Regions from separate parts of the Homo sapiens genome. Here region 1 is linked to region 2. A link means that fine-mapping ties the variant in region 2 to the expression of a gene that starts in the linked region. Tissue or cell type: whole blood. Region 2 holds a variant in brackets; the other region holds the start of a gene. All regions are shown on one strand. Distances are from middle to middle.

Region 1 (2,757 bases), 22 kb before region 2:
CCAATGCATTCCAGTCGGGGTGACAGAGCAAGACCCTGTCTCAAGAAAAAAAAAAAGAAAGAAAAAAAAGAATTTCCAAGGGGGTTTGCTTCCTTGTGATTATGAAGGGCTAGACGTATCCTATTCAAATCCAGAACAAAACAAGACTATTAGTAAACATGACTACTTAACATAGCTCTGTCATACTAGCTAGGACTATACAATGTTAATTTTTTAAAGTTGAAATATGGAAAAAGAAGATATCAAATTACTTATTAATTGGGGATGGTGTTGTATCTATAATAGACACGAAAAATCCAATGAAATATTATTAGACTATAAGATATCTGCACAGTCTCTGAGTAAATACTCCTATGCCAAAATCAACACACTAACAGCAACAATTAAACAATGTGTAGCCTGAGGTTGGATCCTCCACAGTGACCAAAAAAACCAACAACCCGTGGAACAAGTTTAGCAGGCAGTGTACACGACCACCAGAGGGAGGCAGAGGGCTGCTGAGACCTGCCAGGAAATATCAAGAAAGAGGACACAGGGTCCTGAGCACTGAGAGAGATCATTAGGGCCCTCAGGTCCCAAGAAGACAAGACCATACTGGGACCTGGGACCTAAGGAAGATAAGAAAACACCAGATGTCGGTCCTTGAGGAAGCCAAGAGAATACCTCCTTGTCCTGAGCTCCCAAGGAAGATGAGAGCACCCTGGGCCCAAGGATGGGTGGCACACACCAGGTCCTGGACAGCTACAGACTTAGGTTTCCTCTCCCTAGACATGAGCACCTCAGCTTCCAGGAGCAAACTGGACCACAGGGGGACACTAGGCAGAGGATCCTGCTCCTCCTCCCCAATGCCTGGGGTACAGTTAGCCCTGATCATCTCTCCAGAACTAGGGTAGACGTTTGGCCTCATTCCCATCACACTTGTGGTCCACCTAGTCTTCCCTCCTTCCCCTTGCACACCCCTGACCTTCCTACTCCCTTCCTCTAATCCCCAGAACTAGGGTGGACGTTTGGCCACGTTCCCATCACACTTCCGGTCCTCCGAGTTTCCCTCCCCTCCCTGACCTTGAGTGGACACTTGGCCCTGTCCACCCTCACTTTCAGGCAGGACCCATCTCCCAGAAACATAAGTGCCGTCAGTCCCAACTCCTGCACACTTCCGGCTCTCCCAGTCCTCCCCTTCTTTCTCGACTTTGAAACTGGTGGAACTTCAGTACCTCTCCCCACTCCCCCCGCGACTTCCGTCTTCCAGTCCCCCTCCTTCCCCAAAAGTTGCGTGGACTCTAGCCCCGCCTCCTACATTCTCCCCGCCCTCCCTGTCCCCGCCCCTCCACCCAGATGGACGGCCAGTTAGGCCCGCCCCCTGCACTTCCGGCCCTACCCGCCCTTCCTCTTCCCAAGGGACGTCATAATTAATCCCGCCCCCACCGCCACCCAACCAAGCATCACCCATTCCAGCACTTCCGGCCTGACCCCTGTCCAGCGCCTTTCCTTTCTCCAGCTTCTGCTCTGCCCCAAGAGTGGTCGCCTTCGTGGCAGGGCACGACTCTCTCCCAGCTCGGGTCGCCGCCCACATTAGTGTGGGGCCCTGCGGCCTAGCGTCCCTCACCAGAGGCCTCCCCTTGCCTAGCTGGACCGCCGAGGGACATCGACGAGTATCCTCCTCCTGCTGTCCCCGGCTTCGCCTGCCGCCCCTAACCGGCCAGTCAAGATGGCCGCCGCTGGGTGAGGCAAGCTGGCGCGCCGCGGGGGCGTCTGGGAGTTGTAGTTCGGGACGGCGGGCTGACGCACTTCGCCGCCGGCCGACGGGCGCCATTGTGCGGCGCGCGCCGGGTGAGTGCCGCGCGAAACCTGCGTCCGTCGGGGGCTGCGCTGGGCGGGTCCAGAACCGTTAGTTGGGGGCGAGCGCGGCCTCTGCATTTTCCGCCGAGCTCGGGTACCCTGAGCCGGCCGTGCCTGCAGTCCTCCCGCCGCTCTGTGGGATGGGGTCGGTGACCCGGAACCCCGAGGGGAGACAGTGCTTTCGGGGCGCCGCGGTGGAGAGAACAGATCGCCTCCGGAAGCGTGGGGTCTGGGCCAGGGAGGCGATCCCCTCCGATGCGCGGGACAGAGGAGGCTCGGTGTCCTCTCGGGGAGGGGAAAACTGGTCCTATCCAGTCCTGTGGGAGTCCTATGACTCACTCTGGGCGTTTTCCAGTTTGGGTGGACTTGTCATTTCCCGCTGAGGGAGCCGTTCCTGGGCGGAGGCTGCGGTAGCTCCCCAGCGGACACCTTAAGCCTCTCCCTCCCCTCCCAACTTCGGTTTCCTCAGGACTCTGCCCACTTCCACCAGAGACACATTGAGAAGGAGGAAACTATGGCCTCCAGGCTTCCGACGGCCTGGTCCTGTGTGAGTAGAGGCTTCCTTCAGCTTTTGAGTCCGCTACTGCACCTGGGAGGATGCGGATGGTGGTGAGATACCACCTTCCCTGAGATACCCCCATCCTCCAGAGCACCTCGGGGAGGGGGTAGAGATTGGTTGGGCATGAGAGATCCTGCGTGATGGTGGAACCGCAGGTTGCTTGGTTTTCCAAGGGTGTAGTTAGAATAGAGACCAGATTGTAGGGGCTTCTGAAGGCCAGGTTAAGGCTCTTGCTTGTATCCTTTATATTGGGAAGAGTAATTGACAGGTCTTTTGTTTGTTTGTTTTTTGTTTTTTGAGATGGAGTCTCCCTCTGTCGCCCAGGCTGGAGTGCAGTGGCGCGATCTTGGCTCACTGCA
Region 2 (2,757 bases):
GAACGGGAGAGGGGAGGGGTTGGGAGCCGTCTGCTGTGGCCTCAGCGGAACGTCTACCCCAGCCCGCGAGGTCCGGAGAAATACCTTCAGGTGGGGCAGGCGTGGAAACTCCTGCCGCACTGCCCCGTTGCCCCATGTAGGCCCAGGACGTGTCCCTGTCAGCGGGGACTAGGGAGAACGGTACCGGAAGCCCGTGTCTCGGAGGCTGCTGGGAGCTGTAGGCCCCGCGGGTGTCGTAGTTCTGGGCGCTTTTCCGGGTCCAGGGGGGGCAGGGTTCGAGGCGTGGCCTAGAGGCGTTGTAGGCGTCGACCCATTTCGTCGGCTGAGAGACTGGGTCTTGTGTGGACGGTGCTATTCTGGGCGAAAGGGTTAGCTTATGGTTGTGGCCTCGCATTCCTGAGTGCGCGATGACGGACTCGGCGGGTGCGTGAGAGACCAGGGCCGAGGAGGGGTCTGTGCAGGCGGCTTCCGGGCTCTGAAAGATGCTTCCGCCCGAGCTTTTTTATTTTTAACGTAGCTGCAGCTATTGCACACTAGTAATTTTCTGCTCTGCGACCGTTTTTCTGCGCTGTAATAATCACGCTAAAAGTAGTGCAGGTTTTACTGCTTACAAGGGAGTTTTTAACAATTTTCTTAAACTGTGTTACAACACTACCCGTTCTTCCAGTTTTGTCCTAACACCGCGCGGGGCAGGAATATTCCAGGTATGTTGTGGAAATAAAGACCAGGCCGTCCAGATGAGGACACCCAGAGGTTGACTCAGAGCCGGGTATAGTAGGGAGCCAGCCACGGTCCCTTGTGTTCTGTAGAGAGAGTCAAAGGCAGGTAGGGAGTGAGAAGACGTGCATTCATAAGGAAGGGTTCTGAGTGGAGAACCCTATTGGCTTGGCGGGGAGCAGTAAAAGGGTATATTGGCAGTCATCTAAGTCCTGAGCTGTGCTTGTTGCCAGAGGTTGTGGGTCAGTGCTGTGTTAACTATATTTGGTTTGGCTGTTGTGTTTTTATTCATTCCTTTGGTGCCTCTATACCTATCTTCATCTCCGAATAGCTCCAGTAGATTCATCCCGTGAAAGTAGCTGTGGTTCCTTGCTGTGGCTTTGCTAGTTCATGCTGAGCTACTTCCTGGTAGAATTGTGCTGACCATTTATATTCACAACAGCAAGGGTGAAATTGCAGGTTTGCTCTTGTCGTTGCCACTAAATATTACAAATATCAAAAGTAAGTCATAATCTGTAGTTATTTATACTTTTATATTTGTTTTTAAGGCCTTATTTTTTAGGGACAATATCAGGCTTGGTAGCCAAGGCTGGAGTGCAGTGGTGCAATCATAGATAACTGTAAAATCAAATTATTGGGCCCAAGCAGCCCTCCTGCCTCCAAGTAGCTAGGACCACAGGTGTATGCCATCACACCTGATTAATTTAAACTTTTTTAGAGACAGGGTCTCACTATGTTGCCCAGGCTGGTCTCAAGCTCCTGGCGTGAAGCGAATCTCCTGCCTCAGCCTCCCAAAGTGCAGGGATCACAGGTGTGAGCCACCCCGCTGGCCAAATTATTTAGAATTAGCATTTTG[A/G]AGGGGAGTTTTAGAGAGCTTTCTTGTTTCCTCTTGTTTTGTGCTGCCTCCTCAGCATTTCAGGACAGTCCTGGAGTTCAGTTTAGCAATGTGCTCTTGTGGACTCTGTGCCAGGACCCAGAGCCCCTGCCTTTCCCATATATCCTCGTTCTTGTCCCCAGTGGAGGTTGGAGAAGGTTCTTTTTCCTGTGACCATGCATACATGTACAGTGTCACAGATCCCTTCTCAACCCTCATTGCCTTTTGTTCTTTCCCTATAACAGCTCTATGGAGATATAATTCACACATTGTAAAGTTCACTCTTGTAAAGTGTACAGTTCAGTGTTTTTAAATATATTCACAGGGTTGTACAGCTGTCACTACTGTCTAATTCCAGAACATTTTCTTCACCCAAGAAAGAAACCGCATACCCATTAGCAGTCTCCCACCAATCCTCTCAATTTCTCCATTTCCTAACAATTACTAATCTACTTGTCTGTCTGTGGATTTTTATATTCTGGACATTTCATATAATATGTGGCCTTTTGTGTCTGGCTTCTTTTACTTAGCATGATGTTTTCAAGTTTCACCTGTGTTGTAGCATATATTAGTAGTACTTCATTCCTTTTTATTGCCAATATTTCATTATATGACTAGATCACAATTTGCTTATACATCCCTCAGTTGATAGACAATGGGTTATTTGTACTTGTTGGCTATTATGGATAACACTTTGGTGAACATTCTTATAGAAGTTTTTGGGGACATATGCTTTCAATTTTCTTAGCTATATATACTTGGGGGGAATGTCTGGGTCATGGATAACTATGTGTTTAACTTCTGAGGATTTACCAACCTGTTTTGCAGAGTGGTACAGCATTTTATGTTCCCACCAACAGTGTGTGAGCATTCTAGTTTTTCCACATCCTCTCCTGTTATCATCTGTCTTTGGTAACAGCCATGCTAGTGGGTTTGAAGCATATTCCACTGTGGTTTTGACTTGCATTTCCCTAGTGAATAATGGCGTTGAGCATCTTTTCATGTGCTTGTTCTCATTTGTCTTGCTCTGCTTTTGACTTACAGAGTATCCTGAGCTCCAGCTGGACCCTAAATTGGATCCTCTTCCTGCTGAGAGTCCCCTAATGAACATTGAGGTTGTTGAGGTCCTCACACTGAACCAGGAGGTGGCTGGTCCCCGGAATGCC

What was found. PIP is the estimated chance that this variant, and not a neighbour inherited with it, causes the effect.
Region 1: ZNF274 starts here. The variant in region 2 is fine-mapped to the expression of ZNF274 in whole blood (TOPMed, PIP above 0.99).

The regions. Positions count from the first base shown.
Region 1 is chr19:58,181,613-58,184,369 of GRCh38, forward strand. ZNF274 (zinc finger protein 274) reads left to right here and starts at 1,449. Exons shown (of 8, transcript NM_133502.3): 1 at 1,449-1,830; 2 at 2,309-2,386. The coding sequence starts at 2,354. RefSeq lists enhancers at 1,060-1,773, 1,442-1,861, 1,774-2,485, 2,112-2,301.
Region 2 is chr19:58,204,085-58,206,841 of GRCh38, forward strand. ZNF274 (zinc finger protein 274) reads left to right here. Exons shown (of 8, transcript NM_133502.3): 5 at 2,636-2,757. Among named protein-coding and RNA genes, the nearest start is that of ZNF274, 22 kb to the left of the region's middle. The variant A/G (reference allele first, on the strand shown) is at 1,574.